4 linked regions of the Homo sapiens genome follow. The protein of the gene in region 2 interacts with the protein of the main gene of each other region in a pairwise test. Each region holds a gene or a part of one and is shown on either strand. Other genes may lie near its edges.

Evidence for each region.
Region 1: the proteins of CNR2 (region 2) and FXYD3 interact in binary tests that used the Homo sapiens proteins (3 or more experiments, as listed by UniProt).
Region 3: the proteins of CNR2 (region 2) and RFT1 interact in binary tests that used the Homo sapiens proteins (3 or more experiments, as listed by UniProt).
Region 4: the proteins of CNR2 (region 2) and AGPAT4 interact in binary tests that used the Homo sapiens proteins (3 or more experiments, as listed by UniProt).

Annotation. Positions count from the first base shown.
Region 1 is NC_000019.10:35,118,450-35,125,253, forward strand, and holds the end of FXYD3 (FXYD domain-containing ion transport regulator 3 isoform 1 precursor), read left to right. Parts: intron 1-40; exon of another isoform or gene 41-150; intron 151-718; coding exon of another isoform or gene 719-802; intron 803-913; coding exon of another isoform or gene 914-927; coding exon 928-967; intron 968-2,628; coding exon 2,629-2,661; intron 2,662-2,772; coding exon 2,773-2,796; coding exon of another isoform or gene 2,797-2,885; exon of another isoform or gene 2,886-3,216; intron 3,217-4,228; coding exon of another isoform or gene 4,229-4,315; coding exon 4,316-4,390; coding exon of another isoform or gene 4,391-4,468; coding exon 4,469-4,505; coding exon of another isoform or gene 4,506-4,509; exon of another isoform or gene 4,510-4,754; intron 4,755-4,821; coding exon 4,822-4,859; intron 4,860-4,991; coding exon 4,992-5,008; 3' UTR 5,009-5,875; downstream 5,876-6,804. Other genes in the region: LGI4 (leucine-rich repeat LGI family member 4 precursor), read right to left, coding at 6,744-6,804. UniProt on the Homo sapiens protein: Associates with and regulates the activity of the sodium/potassium-transporting ATPase (NKA) which transports Na(+) out of the cell and K(+) into the cell.
Region 2 is NC_000001.11:23,910,096-23,917,939, reverse strand, and holds the start of CNR2 (cannabinoid receptor 2), read left to right. Parts: upstream 1-4,577; 5' UTR 4,578-4,694; intron 4,695-7,844. UniProt on the Homo sapiens protein: Heterotrimeric G protein-coupled receptor for endocannabinoid 2-arachidonoylglycerol mediating inhibition of adenylate cyclase. May function in inflammatory response, nociceptive transmission and bone homeostasis.
Region 3 is NC_000003.12:53,127,177-53,135,814, reverse strand, and holds the start of RFT1 (man(5)GlcNAc(2)-PP-dolichol translocation protein RFT1), read left to right. Parts: upstream 1-5,379; 5' UTR 5,380-5,414; coding exon 5,415-5,477; intron 5,478-8,638.
Region 4 is NC_000006.12:161,270,635-161,278,319, reverse strand, and holds the start of AGPAT4 (1-acyl-sn-glycerol-3-phosphate acyltransferase delta), read left to right. Parts: upstream 1-4,258; 5' UTR 4,259-4,382; intron 4,383-7,685. UniProt on the Homo sapiens protein: Converts 1-acyl-sn-glycerol-3-phosphate (lysophosphatidic acid or LPA) into 1,2-diacyl-sn-glycerol-3-phosphate (phosphatidic acid or PA) by incorporating an acyl moiety at the sn-2 position of the glycerol backbone.

The sequences.
Region 1 (6,804 bases), on a different chromosome or scaffold from region 2:
GGCCAGGGCTTGGTGCAGCCTTGCAGGCTGGTGAGAGGGCAGGACTGATGCCAGGTCAGGAAGGAGAGAGAAACGAGTTCCTTATGCTGAGCAGGTCTACCTGGGAAAGAGAAAGTGTTTGCTGTCACCAGGAACTCTGCTGGGCCTAGGGTAGGGTCAGGGGCTGGGCTGGGGACCCCGGCTAGGCAGAGCCAGGGCTGGGACCGGGAAGGGCATGGGTGTGGGATGAGGGGCAGGAGGTTCGGGGGAACAGAGATGGAGCTAGGGCTGCAGCCAGGAGGTAGAGTCCCCCTCTACCCCCAGTCCCAGCCTCACGTCAATTCCTCCACACACCACCCCACCCCCAAGCAGCTTGAAGAACCTGCTCAGTCCTCAGCCTGAAGTCTGCAATGTCCTGGCAGGGCCGGGCAGGCTCTGAGCGGTCTACGGAGACACTCCTGGGAAGCGGGCCTCCTGCCGCCTGGCTCCCAATGCCCCGCTTCCCCAAACACCCCAAGGCCCTGACAGTCCCTAGTTAGGAGCAGCTGCTGGGGAGCCAGGCCTGGCTTAAATCCTACTTCCTGGCTAGAGCACCTAGTTTCACCTCTCAGAGCCTCAGTCTCCCCATCTGTCCAGTGAGGACAACAGCGGGCAGTGGCGCCCTTGTTTGGTTGCGGGGCGATTCCCAGAAAGCCTGAAGTCCATGTCCAGTGAGTTATTATGGCTCCTCCCGCCTCAGGCCCGAGTTTCACCCAGTCCCCACTCCACGGTGCAGCTGCGGCTTATCTCTCAGCCCAGCGAGATGCCAGCCTTCCTGTCCCGGGTGAGCTGCGCACCCTGCCTGGGGAGCAGGGGAGGAGGGTTGGGGAGCCACAGGCACAGGGCCAGCCTCCCGGTGGCTCTGCTAAGGCCAGACCTCCCGCCACCCCTCTAGGCCAGCGCTCTGACATGCAGAAGGTGACCCTGGGCCTGCTTGTGTTCCTGGCAGGTGAGTACCCATCCCCCGTCTGCCTTTTCCTCTGGATCCCCTGGATGCGGGGATCCAACCTCTGTCTCTCTCCTGTGCTTTTCTACCTCCCCGGGAAGGTGGTAAATGTTAGAACAGCATCTCCCTGAGGGTAAGAAAAGTCAGACTAGTGATAGCCGGGGATACACGAGAAGAGCTGGCTCACACAGCTGGAAAGTCACCGTCTTCCCCATTCTCTCGATCTCTTCTTTTTTTTTGGCTTTTTTTGTTTTTGTTTTTGTTTTTGTTTTTGTTTTTGAAAGGGAGTCTCTGTTGCTCAGGCTGGAGTGCAATGGCGCAATCACAGTTCACTACAGCCTTGAACTCCTGGGGTCAAGCGATCCTACTCTCTTAGCCTCCTACACAGCTAGAATGCCAGGCACACGCCACCATGCCCAGTGCATTTTTGATTTTTTGCAGAGACGAGGTCTCACTGTGTTGCCCAAGCTGGTCTCAAACTCCTGGCTGAGTTTGATCCTCCCACCTCAGCCTTCCAAAGTGCTGGGATTACAGGCATGAGCCACACTGCACTGGCCTTGATTGACTATTAAACAGAAATAACGGAAGCTAGAGAAGATGATGAAATGACACCTTCAAAGCACTGAAAGAAGATAACTGCCCTGCCAGTTCTCTAAAAACTTCAAGTAGAAGGCTCAGCTCAGTGCGACTGCATCTTTAACTTCCAAACACTTTTCCCTTTTTTCTTTTCTTTTTTTTTTTTCGGAGACAGAGTCTCGCTCTGTTGCCCAGGCTGGAGTGCAGTGGCATGATCTCGGCTCACTGCAACCTCCACCTCCCAGGTTCAAGCGACTCTCCTGCCTCAGCCTCCCAAGTAGCTGGCATTACAGGCGTGTGCTGCCATGCCTGGCTAACTTTTGTATTTTTAGAAGAGACAAGGTTTCACCATATTGGCCAGGCTGGTCTCGAACTCCTGACCTCAAGTGATCCTCCTGCCTCGGCCTTCCAAAGTTTTGGGATTACAGGCCTAAGCCACTGTGCCCAGCCCGCTTTTTACTTTTTCACTGCAGCCTTGACCTCCCAGGCTCAAGAGATCCTTCCACGTCAGCCTCCCAAAGCTCTGGGATTACAGGCACACTTTTTGTCCATTACATAGGGCAAGACCAGTATTCCCTGCAGGGTAGTGATCTAAAATTACATTTTCAATAAAGTCTATTTAAGTGTATAATAGTGAGTCATTTTCAATGATGTGCAAACACCAGACCAGGTGGGTGTGGACATGGTGGAAGCGGGAGGATGGGCTTTGAGCATGATTGGACTTGGGGAAACAGGAATCTGGGAACTGAAACCATCTGTCGTCTTGACCAGAAAAGTCCCCCGCTGCTGCAGGAGGCATGGATTAACCACGTGTCTGGAAACATGAGACCAAATAGTGGCTAAAAACCTCCTAGATTAGAACCCATTTCAGGTGGCAGAATGCTGGCGTGACTCGGAGGTGTGGGGCTGAGTGGGCGAGTCCACATTTCCTCGTTGGGATATGAGGGGATGAGGTGGCTGCTCAGTGACAGGACCCCTGTCCCGCAGGAGACCCTTTCCCAAGGCCCCTGAAACTCCCCAGGCCCTGCCCAAAGGCTTGGCTGAGGCCGGCATCACCATCTCCCCTCCTTCCCCTCTTCTCCCACTAGGCTTTCCTGTCCTGGACGCCAATGACCTAGAAGGTGAGTCAGACTGGACTCTCACCCGTCACACCCCCAAATTCTCCCCTGGGTGGGGAAGGCCTGCATCCTGGCTGTAATCCTGGATTCATGATCTTTTTTCTTTCCTTGCAGATAAAAACAGTCCTTTCTACTATGGTGAGAGCCCGTGCCCCCTTTCCCCTCCCCACAACCCCACATACTGCTTGGTGCCAAGGGTTCCCATACAGGGTTGGGGCCTGACGTGAGCATCACAGGACAAAGATACGAAGGGACTAGGATGGGGTTACTGAATATGCCACACAGTGGATTAAAGGAACTAGAGGCAGCAACCTGGCCTTTGGGAAGGTTCTATTCCAGCAAGATAGACACACGCAGGAGGTGAGGACAGTTTGCAAGAAGCCATTGGTTGGTTCAGATCAACTGCTGGGAGAAGTGTTGACTTGAGAAAACTTCCTGGAGGTGGTGAGCTATTGGATCAAAACCCTCATCTGGCCTCCAGGTTCCAATGACCTGCTCCCTACTCCCCGCTCTGCCCTCACCTCTCCACGCTCCTCATTCCTTCTGCTCCAAGCCTCTCAGACACAGCAGACATACTGCCAGCCTCAGACCTCTGCACCTGCTGGTTCCTCTGCCTGGAACACTTCCTTCCACAGAACCACATGGCTCCCTCCCTTCCCTCTGCTCAAATGCAGCCCCCTGAGAGGCCTTCCCTGACAACTCCCTCTAAAAGAGCTGCCATCTGACTTTTTTTTTGTTTTAGAGACAGCGTCTCACACTGTTGCCCAAGCTGGAGTGCTGTGGTGTAATCATAGCTCACTGCAGCCTCAAACTCCTGGTCTCAAGCGATCCTCCTGCCTCAGCCTCCTGAATAGCTGGGACTGCAGGCATACACCACCATGCCTGGCTAATTTTTGTATACTTTGTAGAGATGGGTTCTCACTATGTTGCTCAAGCTGGTCTAGAACTCCTGAACTCCTGAAGTCCCAAAGCACTGGGATTATATTAGGTTGGTTCAAAAGTAATTGTGGTTTTTGCAACTGCTTTTAATGGCAAAAATGCAATTTTTTTTTTTTGAGGCAGAATTTTGCTCTTTCACCCAGAGTGTGACTGGCTGGAGTGCAATGGTGCAATCTTGGCTCACTGCAACCTCTGCCTCCCGGGTTCAAATGATTCTCCAGCCTCAGCCTGCTGAGTAGCTGGGATTACAGGCGCCTACCACCATGCCTGGCTAATTTTTGTATTTTTAGTAAAGACGGGGTTTCACCATGTTGGCCAGGCTGGTCTGGAACTCCTGACCTCAGGTGATCCGCCCACCTTGGCCTCCCAAAGTGCTGGGATATCAGGCGTGAGCCACCATGTCTAGCCAAAAACGCAATCACTTTTGCTCCAACCTAATAGGTGTCAGCCACTATGCCCAGCCCGCCCTCTGACTTTCCATCTCCCACCCCACTTATTTTTCTTCAAACCACTTATCTCTGCCTGACCCTGCACGACAGATCGTGTTTGCTGGTGTGTGAACCAGAATGTGAGCACCTGGGATTTTGTCTGTTTTCTTATGGCGGTGTCCCCAGCACCCTGTGCATCCTAGGTGCTCCATATATATTTGTCAAGAGAATGGGGGGACAGATGGAGAGGACACAGGCTGGCACTGAGGTCCCCTCCACTTTCCTCCTAGACTGGCACAGCCTCCAGGTTGGCGGGCTCATCTGCGCTGGGGTTCTGTGCGCCATGGGCATCATCATCGTCATGAGTGAGTGGAGGAGCTCGGGGGAGCAGGCGGGCCGGGGCTGGGGCTCCCCTCCCCTGACCACTCAGCTCTCCCCAACAGGTGCAAAATGCAAATGCAAGTTTGGCCAGAAGTCCGGGTAAGATACTGTTCCGGCATGCCCGCCTCAGGCTGACTGGACGCTTTTCAGGGTGAAAGGGCTAACTCTCCCAGCAGGAGAGGCCTCGGGGCTCTGCCCTTTAGAGTTCCTGCCGCTAAGATTTCCAGGTTTATTGTTTCTAGCTGGTAATCCCCAGGGGGCCCCAAATCCTGAAATGCTTTGGCCCCTGGGATTGCACAACCCCCCAAATGGAAAGGCAGCCAGGAAGACATGTCTGGGCAGGCTAAGAACCCTCTATCCGGAGGGAGAGGGCAAATGGGGGCGGACACCAATCTCACCACTTTTGTCTCCTTAGTCACCATCCAGGGGAGACTCCACCTCTCATCACCCCAGGTAAGATGGGGCAGCATGGGGCTCAGGGGAACACGGAAGTGGTGTGTGTGTGTGTGTGTATGTGTGTGTTTGCACACTGGAAAGAAAAGAACTCAATCCACCCTCACAAACGGACCCCATCACTTCCCGCAGGCTCAGCCCAAAGCTGATGAGGACAGACCAGCTGAAATTGGGTGGAGGACCGTTCTCTGTCCCCAGGTCCTGTCTCTGCACAGAAACTTGAACTCCAGGATGGAATTCTTCCTCCTCTGCTGGGACTCCTTTGCATGGCAGGGCCTCATCTCACCTCTCGCAAGAGGGTCTCTTTGTTCAATTTTTTTTAATCTAAAATGATTGTGCCTCTGCCCAAGCAGCCTGGAGACTTCCTATGTGTGCATTGGGGTGGGGCTTGGGGCACCATGAGAAGGTTGGCGTGCCCTGGAGGCTGACACAGAGGCTGGCACTGAGCCTGCTTGTTGGGAAAAGCCCACAGGCCTGTTCCCTTGTGGCTTGGGACATGGCACAGGCCCGCCCTCTGCCTCCTCAGCCATGGGAACCTCATATGCAATTTGGGATTTACTAGTAGCCAAAAGGAATGAAAGAGAGCTCTAACCAGATGGAACACTGGAACATTCCAGTGGACCCTGGACCATTCCAGGAAAACTGGGACATAGGATCGTCCCGCTATGATGGAAGTGTTCAGACAGTTTATAATAGTAAGCCCCTGTGACCCTCTCACTTACCCCGAGACCTCACTTTATTACAAGATCTTTCCAAATACCCAAATGTCCCTGCAAGCCCGTTAAATAATTCCCTATGCTACCCTTAATAACATACAATGACCACATAGTGTGAGAACTTCCAACAAGCCTCAAAGTCCCTTGAGACTCCCCAATACCTAATAAGGCATGCGAAATGTTCTCATGAACTACCCCACAACACGCCTAAAACTCAAAACACCCAAAAATATCTCCTCCAATGTCCTGAAACATGAACCCAAAAAGAGACCCACAATAAACTCGTGACTTGTCCCCTCATCATGCCGTTTTATCCCTCAAACATCCCCTGAGTCCCTCCATAACCACGAACCCACACTCAGAGACCATGAACTGCGGAAACGCCTCCCTGGGACCTGGGCCGCTCCGAGCACTGCTCCAGGGACACCATCCCCGCCCTGTGCCGTTCACAGGACATCCTCTCCCAAGGATCCACAACACTGGGCGGGGAGGGTGCACAGCGCATTTATTGAGCTCGGACTCGTCTTGTCCTTGCCTCCGTCGCCCATCTAGAAGGGCACCAGGCTCCCCGCGACACCTCCCGCTGTCCCTCCCTGTGCCCCGGCGCACGCGCAAGAGGCGCAAAAGGCACAGCTTGCTGGGCGGCCGCACGCATGCGCACAAGCAGCAGAGGGGAACCCGCCCAGTGCTGAGTTGTCTTCGAGGTTGGCGCTCCTCCAGGAAAGCGATTGGCTGCGTGGAGTTTAGAATGGGAAAGGAATGCCATCAACCCCTCGGTGCTTTCAGAGGGACCAGCGGGGTAGGAGCGGGTTGAGAGGGGGGCTCCGGGACCTCATGGAGCTCTGCACGTGACCTCCACCTCGACTCCATGCAGTGCACCAGCCTGCACCCCCCAGGTTGCCTTTGATGGGGAATCTGCCCCAGCCGAGATGTCCAGATGTTGCTTTAGACCTGAAGGGCAGCTCGGGAGGTCCAGTAGGCTGGGACCCTCTATGTCCCCCCATGGGTGCAGATCCTTTAAGAAGTGGGCTTAAGGCCTAGACGTGTGGCTGATGAACGTGGCCCACGGTCAGCAGCTCACAGGCGGGCCATCACCCCAAGTAGGGCCAGGAGCCAGCCAAGGGGCCGTCCAGGGGCCCCAGCCATGCCCAGAGTCCCGTTGGTGGTCTCAGGCACTGAGGTCGATCTCGTGATGCTGGTAGATCTGTGTGGGGCCCTTAAAGCAAGCA
Region 2 (7,844 bases):
CAGCCTCCCGAGTAGCTGGGACTACAGGCGCCCACCACCAAGCCCGGCTAATTTTTGTATTTTTTAGTAGAGACAGGGTTTCACCATGTTAGCCAGGATGGTCTCGATCTCCTGACCTCGTGATCCGCCCGCCTCGGCCTCCCAGAGTGCTGGGATTACAGGCATAAACCACCGTGCCCGGCGGATGGAGAGTAGATTTTAAGTGTTCTCACCACAAAAATAAGTATATGAGGTAATGCATATGCTAATTGGTTCAATTTAGCCATTCTACAATGTATATGTATATTACAAAACATCACATTGTACATGTTAAATGTATACAATTTTTGACAATTCTAAAAAATTAATTAATTTTAAAAGGAATACTGTATAGCAGGGTTTAAAAGGCAAAACATAACAACAGTTTTGGTGAAAATATGTTATCCCATATGATTGCAGACACATTTTGTTTTATTTTCCCAAGTTAATTCAGGGACCAACATTTACACTGAAAACTGAATAATCTTTTTTTTTTTTCTTTTCCTCCATCGCCCAAGCTGGAGTGCAGTGGTGCAGATCATGGCTCATTGCAGCCTTGACCTCCTGGGCTCACATGACCCTCCTGCCTCAGCCTCCTGAGTAGCTGTGAGTACAGGCATACATCACCATGCCCAGCTAATTTTTTATTTTTTGTAGAGACAGGGTCTCGCTATGTTGCCTGGGCTGGTCTCGAACTCCTGGGCTCAAGCAATCCTTCCTTCCTCCTCGGTCTCCCACAGGCCTGGGATTACGGACATGAGCCACCATGCCTGGCTTTGAACCATCTTAGGGTCAGTTGGTTCAGACAGTGCAAAGACTGCTTCCCTGTGGCCTGACAGGAAAAGTATACCTCTCGGGAATGTTCCTCCTCAGATCAGACCCTCAATATGACAGCACTCGGCCCCAGCATGGGGTAGATCCATCCTGTAGATGGCGGCATCTCACAGTACAAGGGCTGCTGAGGCCAGCTCTACCCAAGGAGCTGAGAAAACCGCCTCCTAAACCCTCACCTACAATTGCTCCTGGCCCTCCCAGGGCAAAAAGAGAACAGACTTCCCCTGTGGGCCCCATCAGCCCTGCCCAGGGGACTGAGAGATCATGGAGCTTCCTTATTGATTCTCTTGTCCAGTGCTGCCCATAGGGAGTCCAAGGACCGACAGCATCTGCTTCCCCTGGGAATTAGTTAGAAATGCAGATTCTTGGGCCCCATCCCAGAATACTGAATCAGAATCTCTGGGAGTGGGGCCCAGCAATCTGTGTTTTGGGGTTTTGTTTTTCAAGTCAAGGTTCTCTCTCTGTCACCCAGCCTGGAGTGCAGTAGCATAATCAGAGCTCACTATAACCTCAAACTCCTGAGTTCAGGCAAGACCTCCTCCCGCCTCAGCCTCCCAGAATGCTGGGATTACGGGCATGAGCCTCCTCACCCGGCCCCAATCTGTGTTTTAACAGGCCCTGTGGGTGACTTCCATGCACTCAGGCGTTTCAGGGGCACCTGTTATCTCCAACTTCCTCATTTTAGGAATGGAGAAATTGAGAACAGATACAGGAAGCAACTTGTTGGTCAGCCAGGCAATGGCAGAGACCACACAAAAACTCCGCTTCCCAGCGTTCCTTCCACTTGAACTTTCAGTAACTTCCTTTCTTTCTTCCTTCGTTCATTCATTCCTTCACTCATTCATGCCTTCCACCTCCAATTACATGCTTTGGGCTGCAATGGAGGACCAGGCGTTTGGGGACAGCCTCACCCTTCTTCCCCATGTGGGGCTTTCTCAAGGCCAGAGGTCTAGGATTCAGGATTGTGGAAGCATCTGCTAGATCTCTTCCAGCTCACCCCTGGGTCTCCAATTCCAGCCCAGATAGGAGTCTGATGTAGGCTGCAGGCGGGCCCCACTCCCCAGCTCCTTCTGGTCTTCTTTTCCTCTTTCTTGGCACCTGGGGCTCTCTGTCCCATTCCTCACTGCCAATGTCTTGCTCTTGGGAGAGATGCAAGGGCTGGAGGCTGTTACTGTTCCATTTCCCAAAGGGATGAATGATCAAATTAAAGGCCCTTCCCAGCAATGGCTTTGCGCTGAAGGAGCCAGGACTAGGTCCAGACCAGGGTTCGCAAGTTAGCATCTTGAGCTGGATAATTCCTTGCTGTAGGGCTGTCCTGTGCATTGCAGAATGGTTAGCAGCATTCCTGGCCTCTCCCTAGCAGATGTCAGTAGAATTCCTCCACCAGGTTGTGACAACCAAAAATGTCTCCAGATATTGCCAAGTGTCCCCTCTGGGTGGTGTTGCCAGATAAGACAGAGAATGCCTGGTTACATTCTTTTTTTTCTTTTTCTTTTTTCTTTTTTTTTTTTTTTTGAGACAGAGTCTCACTCTGGAGCCCAAGCTGGAGTGCAGTAAGGCGATCTCGGCTCCCTGCAACCTCCGCCTCTGTGGCTCAAGCATTTCTCATGCCTCAGCCTCCTGAGTAGCTGGGACTACAACTACGCACCACCACACCCAGCTAATTTTTTGTATTTTAGTAGAGATGAGGTTTCACCATGTTGCCCAGGGTGGTCTTGAACTCTTGATCTCAGGCAGTCCATCTGCCTCTGCCTCCCAAAGTGCTGGGATAACAGGCGTGAGCCACCACGCTAGGCTGAGCATTCTAATCGCACATAAGCAACAAGTAATTTTTAGTGCCTGAATGTCTCAACTATTGTTGCATTACCTCACATACTTATTTTTGTGGTGAGAACACTTAAAATCTACTCTCCATCATCTTCAAGAATATAATTCATTGGGCCAGGTGGGGTGGCTCATGCCTGTAACATTTTTTACTTGAAGAATCTTGCAACTCTACCTCAGGGGCAAAATCTTTCTTCATTGGCCCAGATCAGGGTCTGGGGTGTGGGGAGCAGTTAGTGAGAGGATCTGATGAGATAATCATAGGCCATGAGTTTACAAGGGCAAAAACTTTGCCATAATCATCTCTGTATCCTTAGAATATAATGGCGTCTCATTAAATATTTTATCTGAGAGTGGGTGTGAGGACACTTGGAACTATATCAGATACCATACCTGAGTACATCCAGCCCAGGACTGGACATTAGGGACATACTCCCTAATAAATATAAACTGAAGATAATGTTTAGTTTGACTCACATAGCATTTTTTAAAGGTGTGACTTTGGGCTTTACATTCTAAAATTGGCAACTGGCTGAGCATGGTGGCTCATGCCTGTAATCCCAACACTTTTGGAGACTGAGGCGGGAGGATTTGCTTGAGCCCAGGAGTTCAAAACCAAGCTAGGCAACATAGTGAGACCCCCATCTATACAAAAAAATTAAAAAAAAAAAATAGCCAGGTGTGGTGGCACATGCCTGTTCTGCCGGCTACCTGGAAGGCTGAGATGGGAGGATCACTGGAACCCAGGAATTTGAGGCTGCAGTGAACTATGATCGTGCCGCTGTACTCCAGCCTGGGCAACAGAGCGAGACCCTGCCTCAAAAAATTAAAATAAAATAAAATAAAGTAAAATAAAATAAACAGGAAGTGGCTGGGCGTGGTGACTCACCCTGTAATCCTAGCACTTTAGGAGGCCAAGGTGGGTGGATCACTTGAGGTCAGGAGTTCAAGACCAGCATGGTCAACATGGCAAAACCCTGTCTCTACTAAAACTACAAATTAGCTGGAGGTGGTTGTGTGCACCTGTAGTCCCAGCTACTCAGGAGGCTGAGGCAGGAGAGTTGCTTGAACCCAGGAGGCAGAGGTTGCAGTGAACCGAGATTGCGCCATTGCACTCCAGCCTGGGCAATAGAGCGAGACTTGGTCTCAAAACAAAAACAAACAAACAAAAAACAAAACACACACACACACACACACACAGGAAGCTATCACATAAGTCAAGATTTCTGGTATCTCTTGAAAAATACAGCACAACTTCCAAATGCTTGGAATATCTGACAATTTGCCTATACTCCCAAGCAGAAAAGCTTGGCTGGAACTAAGAGGTACCTGCCCCTCTCTACTGGCCCAGATCAGGGTCTGGGGTGTGGGGCAGATACCTCTCAGCTGGGCCAGTAGAGAGGGTCAGGTACCTCTCAGCTCCAGCCAAGCTTTTCCACTTGGGTCCTGTGTTCCCCCTATTACCCACAGTCCCTACCACTCCCTATTGCCCCACACCAGGATCCATCACCCATTATGTTAATCTGCCTGTAGGCATTTGCATTTCAAAGCTCTGGCCTAGTGGTGAAGAGGCATTGGAATGGCATGTCCTTTTAGGTGATCTACTGTAATGTTGGTGCATTATCCCCATTTTACAGATAAAGAAACTTGCCTTTGGGGAAGTTAAGTGAATCAACATTTTAACGAGGCTGTATTAGAACCCAAGTCCCTTGACTCCAGGGTCTAGGCCCATGCCCCACCCTGGCCAGAGTTCGTTGTAAGAGATAACTCAACCGCAGGGGCAAGAGCATTGTGGCACCAGGGACCTGGAGGGGAAGTGGTAACAGGCACGGAAGGCCAGACCTCCTCACACTCACTCATCTGTGAGAAAGTACAAAAGCAAGAGAAAGCTGGCTTGGGGTGGCACTCAACAGGTGCTCTGAGTGGCACCCACGGCCAGGTCCTGGGAGAGGACAGAAAACAACTGGGACTCCTCAGCCCCCGGCAGCTCCCAGTGCCCAGCCACCCACAACACAACCGTGAGTAGCTTTTTTTGTTGTTTATTTTAGGCTTCTTCCTCATTCCCCAACACCTGTATTCTTTTTTGTTTGTTTGTTTGTTTTTGAGACGGAGTTTTGCTCTGTTGACCAGGCTAAAGTACAGTGGCACAATCTCGGCTCAGTGCAGCCTCACAGGTTCAAGCGATTCTCCTGCCTCAGCCTCCCGTGTAGTTGGGATTACAGGTGTGCACTACTGCGTCTGGCTAATTTTTGTATTTTTAGTAGAGACAGGGTTTCACCATGTTGGCCAGGCTGGTCTCGAACTCCCGACTTCAGGTGATCTGCCCACCTTGGCCTCCCAAAGTGCTGGGATTACAGGCATGAGCCACTGCACCTGGCCAAAACCTGTATTCTTACCTTATCCCTTCCCTCCAGGGACACAAGAAGCCAGGTGGGCCTGTCTGGGGCAGGGGATAGATGTCATTTCAGGACACCTGGGGTTGTGGAGGACCAGTCGCAGGAAAGTTCAGGGCTGGCATCCCCCTCCTAGGACCAAGAATCAGGACTTTGGCTTTCATTTCATTACAGAGACAAGAATCACACACACAGAGATGGCCTTACTGTGTGCCAGGCGCTGCCCTAAGAGCCTTTAGTGGTTGGATTTATTTAATCCTCACAACAGCCGTATGCAGTAGGAGCTATCACTGTTGTCCACTTGATAGGTGGGGGCTAGGTGACCCACCTGAAATCATGCGGGCATTGAATGAGAGCATTGGCTTGAGCCTAGGCACTCCGGCTTCGCGGCCCACCCTTCAGCCACCAGGCTATCCTGCCTTACGAGGTGTGGACTGCAACAGTAGATGGGGGCCAGGAAATGACAGGGGCTGGCAGAGGCCTTTGAGATGACCAGGTGAGTCCTGCGCTCTCATTTTATAGATGGGGAGACCACAAGGTAGTGTTAGGGGCACACTGGACTCAGGAGGCCAGGGGTCTGCTTTGGTGTAAGTTCCACTCAGCGGAGGGAAGAGCAGTATTTTCCAGTGTGCCCTGGGGTCAGCGTCCAGGTCTGAATCCCAGCTCTGCCACTGGTAGCTCGATGGCCTAATGCAAATCACTCCATTTCTTTCCTGCTCAGCTTCCTCTTCTGAGAAACATGGGCCTGAGAAGGTCACTCACAGGCTTGTTGCGAGTCAACTGTCTGATGCGGGCACAGGGCGGGCAGCAGCACAGGGCTCGGGAATGGCTGTGGTGGAGAGTTTGATCTTCACCCCATCTGCTCTTGCTGTGGATCTGAGATGAGGATAAAATGAGGCCTGGCTGCTTTTCCCTGGAATGAGTGGCAAGTAGACACGTTGGCAGCATGAAAACCAGGATGGAGGCTGGGGAGAAGTTCAGGGAGAGCTCAGGAGGTGGAGTCCCAATAATCCTGGCCCCAGCTCTGTAACCACCTTGTGGCTTACCAGAGTGACCCCCTAACCTGCGCTGGGCAGGTGAAGCATATCCTTTACCCTTTGGCCGGCTAAGGCCAGGATAAGGCAGTGAAGACGGGAAAATGGCAGCCTGGCTCAGCCAAGCAGAGCCCTCCAGCGCCAGCCCCCTCTCTTCCCACCTCATTTTACAGTACCAGTCACTCTTACTGCACACCCTCGGGTGTGCATAAATTGATCTTTTCTTTATTCAGTTGAAGTCACATTCAATAGGACCCTGAGCCTCATCCTACTGGGCTAGGAGGAAATTTAATCTCCAAGTGCACTGAGCTTCCCTCACTCCCATCCCCACCCATGCACATTGACCCAGAGGACACACAGAACATAAGCGTGAGGGAGGCTCCTGGGTCCTCCTACGATGGATGCCCATTGCCCAAATGGACTTGATTGTCTGAAGTCCAGCCTTGCCCACTTCCCTGGCATGCCTGGAGTCCAGATTCTTTGTAAGACCTGAAACCACTGTGTCTCATTTTGACATCCAGGATATATCACCCAGTGACTTCCCCCAGAGGTCCTGCCATCTTCCCAGAAAGCAAATTCTAGGTGCCCAAGACCTCGGTCCCCTCCCAGCCAAGGACAATCTCTCCTCTCCCCTTGGCTGTGGATGGCAGATGGACACTCTTCTCTCCCCACCCCCCACCCACGTGACCTAACCTTCTCACTGCGCTCAGGTTCTCAGGAAAGGACAGGAAGAAGGGTTGTCTTCAAATAGCTTCTGCTTCCTACTCTCACCCCTGAAAAAAGTCCCCGAGCCACGAGACACAAAGGGCACTCTGAAAAGAGACAGGCAGCCCTATCTTACAGATGAGAAAAACCAAGACTCAGCAGCAGTGTTGACTTGCTCAGTGTCACACAGCCAAGGAATAGCGGAGCCAGTGTGAGCAGAGAGTCCTGCGCTGTGGGTTCAGAGCTTGTGCTATCAATCACATGGAATCACATGGAAACCCAAGTCTCCCTCATCAATTACTCAGGCAACCTGGGGCAAGTTACATCACCTTTCTGAACCTCAGTTTCTTCAACTCTAAAAATGACGCTATCATAGCATTCCCAACCTGCCTCAAAGGGGCTCTTGTTTTTTGTTTTTTGTTTTTTTGTTTTGTTTTCTTTTCTTTTCTTTCTTTTTTTTTTTTTTTTTTTTTTTTTGAGACAGCGTTTTGCTCTTGTTGCCCAGGCTGGAGTATAATGGCGTAATCTCAGCTCATTGCAACCTCTGCCTCCTGGGTTCAAGCGATTCTCCTGCCTCAGCCTCCCAAGTAGCTGGGATGACAGGCATGCACCACCACGCCCGGCTAATTTTGTATTTTTAGTAGGGATGGGGTTTCTGCATGTTGGCCAGGCTGGTCTCGAGCTCCCGATCTCAGGTGATCCGCTCTTGTTTTTTTCTTAAGCGAAGATTGATGAAGCATTTACTACACATTTGAGCTCTGTGACCGTTCCTCATTAAGTCCTCACCACAGCCTAGGAGGGGGCTGCTATCACTAACCACATTTGCAAGGTGAGAAACTGAAGCTCACACAAGCTTAAGACTTATCCAAGGGGCCGGGCATGGTGGCTCATACCTGTAAGCTTGGCACTTTGGGAGGCCCAGGCAGGAGGATAGCTTGAGCTCAGCACTTCAAGACCAGTCTAGGAAACATAGTGAGACCCTATCTCTACAAAAAAAAAAAAAAAAAAATTAAAAATTAGCCAGGCATGGTGGCAC
Region 3 (8,638 bases), on a different chromosome or scaffold from region 2:
AGCTCACTGAAGGAGGCAGCTTTTCCAAGGTGCCTGAAGATCCCACCTCAGGCAGTGCTTCTGAGAGCCTAGATCATTGTATCAGAAGCCCCCAGAGGCTGGGCATGGTGGCTGGCCAGGCACAGTGGCTCATGCCTGTAATCCCGGCACTTTGGGAGGCCAAGGCAGGTGGGTCACTTGGGGTCAGAATTCAAGACCACCAGCCTGACCAACATGGTGAAAACCTGTCTCTACCAAAAATACAAAATTATCTGGGGGTGGTGGCGCGCACCTGTAATCCCAGCTACTTGGGAGGCTGAGGCAGGAGAATCACTTGAACCTGGGAGGCGGAGGTTGCAGTGAGCTGAGATCACACCATTGCACTCCAGCCTGGGCAACAAGAGCGAAACTCTGTCTTAAAAAAAAAAAAGGAAGAAGGAGAAGGAGAAAACAAAGAAAAAGAAGAAGCCCCCAGAGTGTTGGTAAATGCAGATTCCTGAGCCTACCCCAGAATTGCTGAGGTGGAGCCCAGGAATCAGCATTAACAATAAACCCTCTGGGTTAGGTCTGGTTAAGGGACTGAAAGCCACACTGCCCAGTTCAAATTTTGGCACTACCATTCACTAGTACTTAGGCAAGTCCCTTAACTTTGTCAAGCCTCAGTTTCTTGGCCTGTAAAATGGGGATAATAATGGTGCCTACATTGTAGGGCTGCTATGGGAATTAAATGAGATCATGAAAGTGAGGTGTCCAGCACAGTGCTTACTTAGACAGATGTGGACGACTAGTATCACAGCTGCATTATCATGCCCTGGGACTTTTGAGAGAGGCAGAGCCTTGAGAGAGGCAGAGCCTTGAGGTCCTGCTTCTGGAAGGGGCCCTGATGGAGGTGCTCTGGGACGCAGAAGCCTTGGCCAGGCAGCGCCCTCACCCAGGACGATCTGCCACCTAGTGGCTGGTGTGTGGGACCATGCCCAGTTCTCCTGCCTCCACCTAGCTGAGATCCATGGCCCAGCTGGCCAGAGGTTCCACCCTGTCTCCTGGCCCACTAGCAGCCTCCCTCCCTGCTCCTCTGCCCTAGGAGCCTAATTGGCTTGGCACCAGCTCTGGCACTTCCCTCCAGCTTTGTAATAAAATAGGTGGCTTGGGTCAGATTTCCCTGGCAGGGAGGCTACCTGGCACAGACGCAGGAGGCGGGGAGGAAGGCTGGGGAAAACGGCTCCTTCAATGACCACCAGTTACAGCCTGGTATTCTCAAGGGGCCACTTCCTCTCCAAGAGGACCAAGAGTACAAGAGCCCTATGTACTTGTCTTTCTTCCTTTCCTAGTCCTTCATCATTCATTTATTCCAATGCACTTACACATGCATTCATTCATTCAATATTGAAATGTTTACTATATCCCAGGTGCTCAATGGTGATCACCAGGAATTGGCAAAGTTTTTCTGTAAAGGGCCATCTAGCAAATATTTTCAGCTTTGTGGACCAACCTATTCTGCTGTTGTAGCAAGAAAGTAGCTATTGATAATATGTAAACAAACGGGTACGTGTGCTATGTTCCAATGAAACATTATTTGTGGACACTGAATTTTTTTTTTTTTTTTGAGACAAGAGTCTCACCCTGTTGCCCAGGCTGGAGTGCAGTGGCATGATCATAGCTCACTGCAGCCTTGATCTCTCCAAACTCAAATGATCCTCCCACCTCAGCCTCCTCAGTAGTTGGGTCTACAGGCACGCACCACCATGCCTGGCTAATTTTTGTATTTTTTTGTAGAGATGGAGTTTCACCATGTTGCCCAAGCTGGTCTTGAGCTCCTGACCTCAAGCAATCCACTCACCTTGGCCTCCCAAAGTGCTGGGATAACAGCCGTGAGCCACTGTACCTGGTGGACACTGAAATTTGAATTTTATACCATTTTCATGTGTCATGAAATATTCTTTTGATTTTTTTCCAACCATTTACAAATGTAAAAACTATTCTTAGCTTGTAGGCCATACAAAATGCAACGTCCAGTGGGCCATTACTTGCCAGCCCTGAGCTGAGTCCTCCATGGGCAAGACCATGGAGTATGCAACTCCCAGTGGAGCGTGCAGGCCAGTATCTCCAACAGGGTCAAGACCTTCAGAGATCCTCACTGGGGAGAGGGAATGCCTCCAAGCCTACCACAGCTCGACTGCTGCAGCCCTCCCAGACTCCACTCTCTCAATGCCACATATGTTCTCTGTGGCTTACATATAGGGACTCTTAGGTCTCCTTTACAATCAGAAGCTTTTTTTGAAGGGAGGAACATTACTGTTCACGCATTTGGAATCAGAAGGGACCCGAGTTCAAATACCTCCTTGACCATTCCTTTGCTGAATGACCTTGGATGAGTTACGTCACATCCCTGTGCTTCAGTTTCCTGATCTGCAGTCCCTCTCTCATAGGTTATTGACAGGATGGAGTACACGCATGTAGAGTGCTCAGACAGGTGCCTGACATGGAGTCAGTGGTCAATGTTTGTGGATTCTCCTCACAGTTCCTTTTTCCCCACCCACCCCAGAACCCAGCACGGCTCTGGGCTCTGCTCAGTCCCTCCTTGCCAAGTGTTAACTTCCAGAATAAGAGAAAAAGTCCCTGGATTCCTCACCCAGGAGCCCCACAGAGTCCATACCTTGGGGTCCTAGAATGCTTTGCCCTTTAGACTTAGCTTGGAGCATTTCCCCTTTGACTTCTTTGCTCCTAGCAAAATGATCACTTCTTCCCTCCCAAAGCAGCTTACATGGATGCCAGGCTTAGGAGTGTGTGCACATGATGAACTCTTGGCTGGTTCTACTCTGGGGATGAGCTGTAGAGGAGGAGACTGCTTGGCTGGGAATAAAGGAAGTGGGAGGCTGTCTCACCTGCTGGCCCACAGTCCAGGGGGGTGGGAAGGCTGCCCAGGTCAAGGTCTTTAGCATCTCAGCCATTATGCCAAATACCTGGACCCTCCAGCACTTTCTCTATTCTCCAAGTACACTCCTCCCCAGGTGGGTGCCCAACTCACTCATCCTAAAACAGCACCCCTCTCTCTCTTCCAAAGCCTCTAGGATCTTACCTGGTTTCATTCTTTCGTAGCACTTAGCCCTATGTGAAATTTTATTTGTTTGTTAGAGTTTTTTTCAGTTTCCCTTTCACTAGAATTTAAGCTCTCTGAGGGCCAGACTTGCCTGAAACAATCCTTATGACTATTTTTACAGGACAGATAATATCCCTATTTAGTAGCTGAGCATACTGAGGTCACCCAGTCAGTGAGTGGCAGAATGAGGATTCAAGGTCAGTTCTCTCTGACAGACAAAAGCTCACATTCTTGGGCAGGGTGCAGTGCGGTGGCTCATGCCTGTAATCTCGGCACTTTGAGAAGCTGAGGTGGGCGGATCACTTGAGTCCAGGAGTTGGAGACCAGCCTGAGCAACGTGGGAAAAACCCATCTCTACAAAAATCACAGAAAAAATCAGCCAGGTCTGGTGCTGCACGCCTGTAGTCCCAGCTAATCGGAAGGCTGAGGTGGGAGGATTACCTGAGGCCAGGAGGTGGAAGCGGCAGTGAACCAAGACTGTACCACTGCACCCTAGCCTGGGAGACAGAGCGAGACCCTGTCTCAAAAAAAAAAAAGAAAAGAAAAGAAAAGAAAAGAAAAGAAAAAGAAAAGCTCACATTCTGGGCCTCCACACTAAGACAGAGCTCATTTCACCTGGGAAGATGGGAGTGATAGGCTTTGAGTTCCACAGTCTGTTTCCAGCAGCAGTAGCAGCAGTCATGTGTCAGGAGACATTTATAGGAGCCCTAAGAATGTTCTGTACCGCTACTTCAGGAAGCAAAACCAGGCAGGCTGCACTTCTGCCCTCTTGGAGCTCATGGGCTGATTATATAGAGACACATATTCTAGTCTTTCTGCTATAATGCAGATTGCATTAGGAACTATAAAGGGGTACAGAGTATTTTAGGGGTACTGTCTTGATTTGCTTGGGCTGCTGTAACAAAATACCATAGACTGGGTAAGTCAAAAACAGAAATTTCTCTCACAGCTCTGGAGGCTGGAAGCCCAAGATCAAGGTGCTAGCCAGTTTGGTTCCTGTTAAGTGTATGTTGGGCGCCTTACATTTTACAAAGCCTTCTTCGTGGTTGCAGACAGCTACATTCTTGCTGTATCCTCAAATAGTAAACACAGAGATCATTTTTCTGACATCTCTTTTTATAAGGACATGAATCCCATTATGACGGCTCCACTTTCAGGACCTAATTACTTCCCAAAGGCCTTACCTCCTAATACTATCACACTGGGGATTAGGCTTCAACATATGAATTTTGAGGGTACACAAACATTTAGTCCACAGCAGGTACCAGCTGTGGTTGGCCAGGAAAGTCAGGACAGTGTGGTCTAGGAGGGCAAGGGGTGCTGTCAGGGAAGACACTTTGGACAAAGAGGGTGGAGGAGCAAAGGCCAGTGAGTCACCGCCTGTTTGAGGACCAGTAAGGACTCGGAATGGCTATGGCCTAGATAGTGTTGGGAAGGGCAATGATCGTGTGAAAGGTAGTAGAAGATAGGTTGGGGCCAAATCATGTGAGGACTGAAAGAGATTGGGGAAAGACTGGGCTTCCTACAGCCTGCTTGGTAGATAATAAGAACACTGACAGAACAGCAGCTGATTGTGTATGTTGGGCGCTTTACATTTTTTTACAAAGCACTTCCAGTCCTTCTTCCACTCTGCCCTCACAATTTCTAGCATACAGGCAAGAGTGATAAGTTTAGGATCAGGAGCCTGGTATCCACTTAGTCAGGAAACAAGTTGTGTAGATTCGAACAAGTCACTTCCCATCTCCAAGGCTTTACTCATCTCTAACCACAGGGGCCAATTCTCAGAGCTTTCGGAAGGATTTCACAAAACCATACACATAACAGTGCTATATCTAACTTCTGGTCCTCAGTTCTTTCTCTGTTAAATGAGGACAATTCCTGTCCAGCCTAATTCAGAGGGTCTGTGGCTGTGATTCTGTAAGCAAAGGTCAATGGTGAGAATCTTCTTAACGGGCCAGTGAGAAGTTTGTTCCCCTTTTGGCAGATGAGGCCAGGAAAGTTAGTGCTTCTTGGTTGGTGGCTGAAAGCCTCAGAGAAGGAACTTTGGATTCTTTAACGGTATCTCTTAGTACTCGCCACACTATTTCGTTTATACGGGGAAGAGAGGGACAGACAGCGCACAAGCGACAGACAGCGCAAAACCTACCGAAATAGAAAGAGCCAGGCGCCATAACAGACGGCCCGAGACAGGCCCACTTAAAGGACCAGAACTTCTCGTGCCCCGCCCCCCTCTCTCAAGGCCATCAATCAGACAGCGAGGCGCGCCGTGACGCCATCTTATCGCGACTAAACGGAGTGGCGGCGGCATTTCCTGGTGTCTGAGCCTGGCGCGGAGGCTATGGGCAGCCAGGAGGTGCTGGGCCACGCGGCCCGGCTGGCCTCCTCCGGTCTCCTCCTGCAGGTACTCTCTGCCCTTCAGGTTCCAGCTTGTACTGCAGCCGGGATTCGCGGGATGGCAGCCCTTGGGCCCTTGAGAGCCTGCCCCAGGGCCGACCCAGTCCCGAGGTGGACCCCGCAATGGAGGGGGTGGGGGGGTCGACCGGAGACGGTGGCATTGATGAGGGGGGACCCTGGCCCGGAGATAGGAGCCTGCCTTTAGAGTCTAGGCCGGGTGACTGCAGACAAGCCGCTTTCCTTCTGAGCATTCTATTTCCCATATGGCAGTAGGAGTGAATTAGATCAGGTGGCGGGGGTGAGGGACTGGTATTTCGTGCTCGAGAATCTGATATTTTTCAGGCAAGGGGTTCATTTCCTTCATCAAACACCTTCCTCAAACTTTGAGTCCCACTGAGTTCCGAGAGTCCATATGGCATAGCTAAGAAGAGAAATCTGGAGTTAGGCTTGGATTGCTCCGTGACCCAGGACAAGTGACTTCACCTGCAGAGCCTGAGTTCCTCACTAGTAAAATGGGGGTAATAATATGTCGTACTTAGCTCATAAGCAGGGATTGATTGGGATCATTCAAATAAACGTACTTAACACAGTACCCGGCTCTTAGTATGCATTTAATACATGTTGGCTGCATCTTCTGTTTATGTGATCTTGGACAAGTCACTTCCCTTCTTGGCCCTAATTTTTGTCATCTGTCAGGTATGATACAGGCCAGTTAGTCCAAATGGTATCTGAAGATTCTTTCAACCCCAGGAGCTGAACCTCTTAAGTCAAGTGGCTCAGTATCTCTCTGTCTCACTCTTGAGCCAATCAACCCTACTTCACACAAGTCCCGAATCTACCCTACCCCTTATCTTAGAGAGGCACATGGAGGGCAGAAGAAAGAACCAAGCAGAATGGGGCTTGAGTTTGGGCCTTGTCACTTGCTAGATGCCTGCCTTCGGGATAAATCCGATGACTTCTGTATCAGTTTCTTCATCTTAAATGAGAATCATAGTGCAACCTCACAGGGTCATTAGGAAGATTAGATGAAATCATGCCTCTTAAGTGCCTGGCACACTACAAGTACTTAATAAATGTAGCTATTTTTATTAGGGTAATAAGTATTTTTAAAATAGTCAATGTAGGAATGAAATGAGATAACCTATGGAAAGCATGTTGAAGAGTGCCTTGCACGTGATATGTGCTTAGTAAATGTTAGCCATTCTAAGTTTACCTAGGGATTTTTTTTTTCTGTTTCACTACATAAATAACTGAGTTTATTGTTTTATCCACAATGTTGGTTTTTTTTCAGCCTTTGATAATATCTTACTACTCAGATAGGCTTCATAAAACGAAAACAAGTTATAACGGAAAACACACTGGACTACGAGTCAGGTGGCTTACCTGTAAGGTCAAGCTGGGTCATTTACTTGCCGTGTGACAGTGAGGAAATCACTTAACCCTCAGTCTTGCTTCCTGTGCATTTACCTCGTTGTTTTTAGTGTCAAATAATTTAACAGATGTGAGAGAGCCTTTTTGTTAAAACTGTAAAGTTGGCTGGACGCGGTGGCTCATGCCTGTCATCCCAGCACTTTGGGAGGCCAAGGCAGGAGGATTGCTTGAGCTCAGGAGTTGAAGACCAGCCTGGGCAACATGGTGAAACCTTGTCTTTACAAAAAATACAAAAATTAGATGGGCGTGGTGGCATGCACCTGTAGTCCCAGCTACTCAGGAGGCTGAGGTGGGATGATCTCGAGTCTGTGAGGTTGAGGCCTCAGTGAGCTGTGATTATGCCACTGCACTCCAGCCTGAGCAACAGAGTGAGACCCTGTCTTAAAACAAAAGCTGTAAAGTTCTTTGCAGAAGTAAATGAAGGCTGTGTTGCTAATAAGGACTGCAGTGTGTGGCAAATACTGGGTGGCGTAAGCAACCTCAGTTTCATTAGCTGCAACCTTTATTCAAACCAATTAGGAGACATGGATATGGCCTGGAACATTAAGTTTCTTAGACAGTGGTAACTTTGAGGTTAACATAAGTATGTACACATGGTGTTTTGTTTTTTGTTTTCGAGATGGAGTCTCACTCTGTTGCTCAGGCTGGAGTGCAGTGGCACTATCTCGGCTCACTGCAACATCCGCCTCCCGGGCCCAAGAGATTCTCAGGCCTCAGCCTCCCAAGTAGCTGGGATTACAGGTACCTGCCACCACACCTGGCTAATTTTTGTATTTTTAGTAGAGACAGGGTTTCACCATGTTGGACAGGCTGGTCTCGAACTTCTGACCTCAAGTGATCCACCTGCCTCAGCCTCCCGAAGTGCTGGCATTACAGGTGTGAGCTACCGCGCTCGGATTTTTTTTTTAATAACCATATTTTTATATGGTTTCTTGAGTGTTTTCATTCTTGTATGCTTTCTCGAATTACACTGTAGACACTTCAGGTAGCTTTGTGGTTACATTTTATTCTGCAAGAATTTGAGAGCTTGTTCTATCTTAATTCTAAGCCACCTATGCTGAAAGTATTAATGCCTTTCATTTGTATGCACTTAAAAAATGCTTTCACTTCTACAGTCTCATTTCTTTTAAAAATATTTCTTGTAGAGATGAGGTCTCACTGTGTTGCCCAGGCTGGTCTCAAATTCCTGGCTTCAAGTGATCCTCCTACCTTTCAGCCTCCCAAAGTGTTGGGATTTTCTTTTCTTTTTTTTTTTTTTTTTAAGATGGAGTCTAGCTCTGTCGCCCAGGCTTCACGCCATTCTCCTGCCTCAGCCTCCCGAGTAGCTGGGACTTACAGGCACCTGCCACCACACCCAGCTAATTTTTTGTATTTTTAGGAGAGGCGGGGTTTCACCGTGTGAGGCAGGATGGTCTCGATCTCCTGACCTCATGATCCGCCAGCCTCGGCCTTCCAAAGTGCTGGGATTACAGGCATGAGCCACTGCGCCCAGCTAAGTATTGGGATTACAGGCATGAGCCACTGTACCCAGCCCTACAATCTCTTTTGATCCTTTTAATCAACCCTATGTGATAGGTAAACTCATTTGACCGAGGAAATTGAGGCTTATAACAATTAGAAGATAACAGATAGAAGAGCTAAATGGTGAATTGTATTTTTAGTAGAGACGGCATTTCACCATGTTAGTCAGGCAGGTCTCGAACTCCTGACCTCAGTTGATCCACCCGCCTCGGCCTC
Region 4 (7,685 bases), on a different chromosome or scaffold from region 2:
AAAAACATACAACATTTTAAGAACTTTATTGGGTTTTTATTGACATATATAACTATTAAATATAAGATTATAGACCCCAAATATCAAATTAACTTTAGCATTTACAATTTTCCTTTGTCTCCTCTAAGCAGCCACAATTTCCAATGTAGCACATAATGAGGTCATCATAGTTGCAAATCTATATCTTCATATTGTATAACTTGAGAACATTTTTAAACTCAGTGTATAGGTTTGTGTGGATGTTGTATCAATGTTCACAACACGAGGCAAGTGGAAATAAAGCAAAAATACTGTTAATGTGTAATAACATTGTGCTAACAGAATGGGCAATTTGTAACAATGCCATCAGTGACTCCACTATCTAGCACAACAGTTAATACATAGTGTGTAAGTTCACATTTCAGATAAGTGATAGTTATCATTTTAAGTACCAAAACTTAGGTTTAAAGAAGTTTCTGAGATATGCAGAATTCTACCTCTCACTGGGCTTTGAAAATATGTTACTCCTCAGGACTCACCGTGTCGTAAGCATCACTGATTATTGTTTATGTCTGTTCTAAATTGCAGAAACAGTTTCAGAAACCTAGGTTATTTGGTTTTTAGTCCTAATCTTGTTACTGTAAAAGTCACACGTGTTCATCCATTGTAGAAAGTTCTCCAAAGTGCAATCACATATAAAGAAGCAAATAAAAATCATCCTCAATCTCACTCTCCAGAAGTAATGATTATTAACAGTTTCATGATCTTCATCACACTGCATTAAGTTTCCCAGAGCTGCCATCACAAATTAGCACAAACTGTGTGACTTAAAACAACAGAAATTTATTCTCTTACAGTTCACGAGGCCAGGAATCTAAAATTAAGGCATCAGCAGGGTTGGGTCCTTCTGGAGGCTCTCAGAGAGTCTGTTCCATGCGTCTCTCCTGGTTTCTGGTGTTTGCCAGCAATCTTTGATTCATAGACACATCATTCCCATCTCTACCTCCGCCATCACATGGCCTTATTCTATGTGTGTGTCTTTCTGCATCCTCTCCTCTTTTTATAAGGACACCAGGTATTGGGTCTATAGCCCATCCTAATCCAGAATGACTTCGTCTCAGCTGATTAACATCTGCAAAGACTCTGTTTCTAAACAAATTCATATTGTGAGGTTCTGGGTGAACATGAATTTGTGGGGGACACTGGGGGACACTTATTCAACCCACTACACACACTGTAATATATATTTATAGAATCACGAAAACGGGACCATAATTTATATAAAGCTTAGTTCCCTTTACACTTAAGATACCATGAATTTCCCTAGGTCTTTCAAACACAGAATTTTAATTTTTTGTAGAGTGTTTCATCATATGAAGATTACATCATTTCCATAGCTAACCTGCTACTTCAAACACTCAGATGGTTTCCAGACTTTACTATTATAAATGGCTCTGATGAATATACATGTTCCCAAATCTTTGAATTTATCTCTGCTTATGTCCTTGGTATAAATTATTCTGAGTCGAATTATTGGATTAAGGGGTATGAACATTTTAAAGGCTCATGAAAAATCTTCTTTAATTGAATTCCAGAGATTGTATCAATTTGCCATCACCAGCAGAAGAGAGAACCCATGGCATTGCATTCTCTGCACTGCACGTTCTAGCTTTTTGAGTGTTGGACAAGTGACTAGGCAAAGAAATAACATCCTTACTTTGTGACTTGTATTTTTATGTAAGGTTGCCTCTTTGTTTACGGACCACTTATATATCTTTTTTAGGTTACCAATTTATGATTTGTGTCTCCTTTTCAATTTTTTTCTCCTCTCTCCAACTGCCAGTATTTATTTCTTACCATCTCACGGATGAGTATACTGTCCACCTCCACCCCTTTTAGAGTCCACTGTTAGCTAAGAAACTATGTAGATGTATCCTCCCTCTCCTTTTCCCATTCTCGAACCACCTCTGAATCTTGTACAAATGTCAATCATTGCCTCCATTGTGTCTTAACTGTTTACATTTCGCTTTCCCTTCTAAGACTTTGAGCACTTTGGGGCCATTTCCATGTCTTATCTGTGTTTTTGTATCTTCAGCAACTAACATGGATGCTCAATAAACATACATTGAACTGAGTTGTTACGTTGTGACCTGGAAATATTCACAATTCCTTGTATAGATAGAAATAGCTAAATAAGGGCACATAAGGATAGACTCTAAATGGCACTCAATAATGTGCATAGGGCTGGGCGTGGTGACTCCCTGCCTGTAATCACAGCACTTTGGGAGGTGGAGGTGGATCACCTGAGGTCAGGAGTTAGAGACCAGCCTGGGCAACATGGTGAAACTTCGTCTCAACCAAAAACACAAAAAATCAGCTGGGTGTGGTAGTGTATGTCTGTAATCCCAGCTATTTGGGAGGCTGCAGCACGAGAATTGCTTGAACACAGGAGGTGGAGGTTGCAGTGAGCTGAGATCGTATCATTGCACTCCAGCCTGGGCAACAGAGCAAGACTCTGTCTCAAAAAAAAAAGCATAGGATTTAATCCATGAATTTTGAATTTCTATGTTAAATTTTTAGAAATAGTAACTTTTTCTCCCATATTTCTCAGCTATATCTGAGATAACTGGGACTGAGCAACATTGTCTAGACAGGCAAAGTGTTAGCAATAATAAGTATAATAATAATTGTAATGTAATAATGGAATGAGGATGTTAAAGTACTGAGATCAGGATAAAAGTTACAATTGTCCAAATTTTAAATTTCCTATCATTTCCACTGAAATCACTGACTGTACTTATAACATTATCAGGAATTTATGCAATTTGTAGGTTTTGAAATAAATTACCATTCAGAATTCAACCGTGAAAAACAGTGTAACTCTACTTGAAAAACACTTTGAAAAACTCAAGTTTCCACCAAATCTAGAAGCACATGGGTCGTAAAACATAGTTCGAAAAGTTACGAGAGATGATGACTACAAGGAACTTTTTATAAAAATCTTTTATAAGCATTACTCTGTGGTCAAATTTATTTTCACATGGATATTAAAACAAGTTATTGCTACAAATGGGTTTCTGTTCTGATCCTTTTTTTGTTTGCCTCACATATCCTTTCTCTTCCACCACATTCTGCTTCACTCTCCCCGTCTCTCATCACAGACAAGAAAAATGCCACCTCCCATAGGACCCACTCCAAACCCTGTTTCCTGAATGATCAATGCCTTCCCCCATCGCAATCAAAAAAGCACTTTCTATTCTGTCTTCATGACACACTGGTTTTGACACTTGCATAGCTGTTAGTAATTCTGCAATGTGCTTGGGCTATTTGTGAGCACATGTATTTTTCCTTTATAGATTATAAACATCTAAAGAACAAGGTTAACCCAGGAGTCAAGTAAATAGTTAAATATTATTTTGACAATGGCTGTAATAGTGGACATTTGAAAGGAATACACCTCAGTATTTTGAAATTGAAATAATTTTCTAGATCCTGGCATTTCTGGACTTTCAACAGCCCACCCTTTTTAAAAATTGTGAAGACACTTTTACTATAAAGGTCTGCCCAGACCCTCTCTGATACACCTGTGTAAATGCCACGTGCATGTGAGCATGCGACAGTACGTGTGTGCACGCCTGTGCAGTGGTAATCAACCATGGTGCTAAGGTTTGAAAACAGAAAATACATCAATCGACCTCCAAGCTTCTTTCATCCCACTTCATAACATCTCAATCTCTTGAGTGCTGAGGCTTATTTTGTTTAAGATGATTTGGACTCTTCTGAGTGCAACGCAATCTCCTTCCAGCACAGCGGACCGAGGAGAGGTGAGGGGAGAGTTTTGAGGGTGGGCATATTGATCCTACGCTTGCTGAATTAAAAATGAGCCAACTGAGGACAATTTCCAGGTTGCAACACAGACGGAGCCGGAGTCTGGGTTGAGGTTAGAGGAGCCGTTAGGGCGCAGGGATGCAACAGGATTTGGGAGAAAGGGGAGAGAAAGCAAGGCCACTTCCAGGGGGCTTTCATTTTTTTTTTATCCTGGCAGCTTCCCGAGCCAGATTTCAAAAGCGATTTCAAACGTGAAGCCAACTGAAGCACTGCCTTACACTAATTGGAAGGGGAAGGGAGTGACTCATATTACACCAGCTCGCTCTTCCCTCTCGGCAACTGCTAACTTGTAGCTTTAAAAGGAAGTGACATGGGTGGGGAGAGACGTCAGCTGAGGACCACTTTTTTTTTTTTTTTCTTCCTGAAGGGTCCACCCCATGGGTGGAGTCTCGCTTTTTCTTTCCAGTGTTGGCTGACTTACAGCTCTTATAAACTAGTGGCAATTTCTGAACCCAGCCGGCTCCATCTCAGCTTCTGGTTTCTAAGTCCATGTGCCAAAGGCTGCCAGGAAGGAGGTATGTGGTCCTGGTGCCGTTCGCAGGCACCTTCCCCGCTGGGTGTGGCTGATGTTTGCATTCCTCTTCCCAGCATATTTTTCTCTCCTGGGCTGGATTTCCTTAGGACCTCTGGAAGGGGTAGGCTCCGGGGGCGGGGGGGGAGTGCAAGGCGGGCGGGGGAAAGGTGCAGGGGGCGCCTGGAGGGAGGCGAAGAGAGGCTCTGCTGGTACAAAAGGACCCTCGCTTTGTGCTGGGCCGGGTGAGCGTCCCTTTCTGGGCTGTGATTTCAAGCTGCTGTTCCTGGCTTCATTTACCCACCCACCCAGCCCCCTCCCGGGGCTAAAGCATTTTCTCTGCTATAGACGAAGCTGGGCGGGGGGTGGTGGTGGGGGGAATGTTCCTATTACATATTGCTCTCTTTTGTGTCATGCAACATGTTCTTCCGTCGCTGACGTTTCTATGGCAACCACAAAAATACTACACAATATGCAGCCCCGATATACATTGATTTATTTGTATTTTGTGTCTAGTTTGCAGCTTTCTGCTCTGCTTCTTGCTTTGGTTTGCTAAAATCCAGCATGGCTTGTGGCTACCCCTCCTCACTTTCATTTTGGTTTTTCCCTATCACAGGAGGGGTGGGGGAGGGGAGTTGTCAAGGAAACAGGCATTGGTAATTACCTCTCTATTTACCTAATTTTCGGCCTATGAATTTCTCCATATCGAGGAATTAAAAAAAGAATGCTTTGATGTTTATGTAAGTCTTCAGTGTCTGGTCTTTTTTTAGAAAACCTAAACACTTCTTAAGATAAGATATTGATCCTGTGGTCAAGCTAAGGGGGAATTAATTCCTTACAGGAGGTGAGATCATTGAAATAAAGTTTTAGAGAGCATTGGAGAATTCGCACTGATAAATGTGATATTGCCTGCCCAGGTTTGCCTAAAAGCTTAAATATTTAAAAGATGGGTCTTTGCTCTCATCTGCACTTATTTAGCTCCAAATCTTAAGTTCAACAAGTATGAGTAACAAATTAACTGCCGGGCAGGATTCTCCGTTTTTCGTTTTCGTGCATTGTTCTTAGATGGATTAGCCACGCTATTCACTCTCTTCAAGGTGAGGGTTGCTAGACTTTTTCAAAACTGTGGAAGGATTAACTCATCTGTGATTAGTCAACGACTCTCAGTTGGAAAAAAAGTATCTTGAGAGAAGGGAGAATGTGTGTGTTTGTGTGTGTGTGTGTGTGTGTGTGTGTTTAGGGAAATGGGAGGCGGGCAGGGAGAACAGGGCACATCTTGAGTTCTACGTTAAAAGGATTCCATCTTCTGAATATTCTCTATGGGGAGAAAAACTGTTATTCAGAAAAAATATGAAATGAGAAAATTATTATCTACTTAGTAATAAGCAAAGTTAATTATAATTAGAATCAAATAACACATCTCTTAGAAAGACATAGCCTCTTAACAGGTACCGGCTAAACTGATGCTTTTATTCAGTACGTCTAAGGAAGCGTTTGATAAGGGATACCATTCTTCTGATGGGCATCCCAAATAATTAGCTTTTATAAAATAGATAAGTAGTAATCCCATTCATGACTCTTAAAATTATCTATAATTTAAGATAAACATGTGTGAAGGTCACTTAGCCCTCATACCTTCCGGCTGCTAAAGCCAAAATCATTACTTATAAACCTTGAGCAACCCTGCCATGTGGAAGCAGGAAGAATGGGTGGTTTCAGTGAGGTTCTGTTTGCTGTGATCCTTATCTAAATATGCTATCATCTATGTCTTATCAAATCTGCTATAAATCCAGAGGTCCTAAGTAATTCAGGTAGAAAAGTTACCTGAAAATGGGGCAAAATAGCATGGCACAAAACAAACCAGAGCCACATGGAGTTAAAGACGAGAACTATTTAAAGGGCATAACACACAGAAAAGTATTACTAAAAAGAATATGACACTCATTTTGAAAAGCACATGTTAGTACACAGAGAAACGGTTGGATTGTGAGCATCTGATGTTTGCAAAGAATTCTGAAAAGCAGCCAGGCTGAAATTACTGTTTTTCCTGTCTGAAAATGGTCCTCAAGGGCAGATTTGCCACATGACCTTCCAAAGCAGATTGACAGCATGTAAATCAAAGTCTGCGATGTCGGTTCTCTTGAGTTTCCAGATTCAAAATTTCACAGCAAAAAGCCTAATGGAATAGAACTGAAAGGAAAAAGAGCAAGACTTCCTCAGAAGCACAGCCAAAACAAAAACAACAAAAAACCCAAACCCAATAAACAAACAAAACACTGTCTGATATTCAGATGCTGAGTAGAGGTTAAAGCAGTTAGCAGCTTTGGCCTAGGGAAGGTAAGTGGAGCTGTGAGTATAAAGTAAACGTAGGGTCCCATGGAAGAGGCTGACAGAGGTGACACCCAGAGGGTGAGTCAGCCGTCATTTTATTGGGATTTTACTGTCTGCAAGGCTCTGCTGTGAAGTTGGTGAAGAAGGCAGCAGTTGTAGTCTGTGCTCTCAAGCTTAAAATCCACCAAACGGGTGGCGAAAAGAAGAGCAGAGCACCCAGCTGGAAGGAAGGGGGAGGCAACAGCCAGTCAAGGAGACGCAATTAGTATGAGAAGAATACTAGAGAGTCTTCATCCTGCTGCTGAAGCTTTATAGGAGAGGAGGCAGACGGTTCAAGGGAAGAAGGAGAGGGTGTCTTAGATAGCAAAGGTGGATGGTAAGAAATGGATCATGGTTCAGGGTTCTTAACTCCAAGAAGGGAGAAGTCAGTCTTTAGTATAGAAGTAGAGCAGGTATACTCTGTGCTGGTTGAAAGCATAAGTAGATGTAAATTGGGGACAGAAGTTTTTCTTAATCAGAAAAAGAAGGACTGTTAGAAGACTGAACAGAAGGCAGAATCCTTCCTAATCCAATACTTTTTTAGCTTCAGCTTAACAACGAAAGGCCAGACTTACACTAGACTTTAAACAGGTATGAAACTGGGGAAGACGCAACCAGGAACTTACCCGGAATGTCATCTTCATAATTCCTGCCATTGCCATTGTTTTAAATTATTGGATGCTCAAATGAGGGTTTGGTAAATGTCACACGTTTTGTGCAGTCTCCTTTATTCTGGAAAGGAGGTCTGATGGTTATGGGACAAAGCCGCATTCACATTTATTTTTTTTTTGAGATGAAGTCTTGCTCTGTCGCCCAGGCTGGAGTGCAATGGCGTGATCTCGGCTCACCACAACCTCCCCCTCCTGGATTCAAGCGATTCTCCTGCCTCAGCCTCCCGAGTAGCTGGGATCACAAGCATGTGGCACCACGCCCAGCT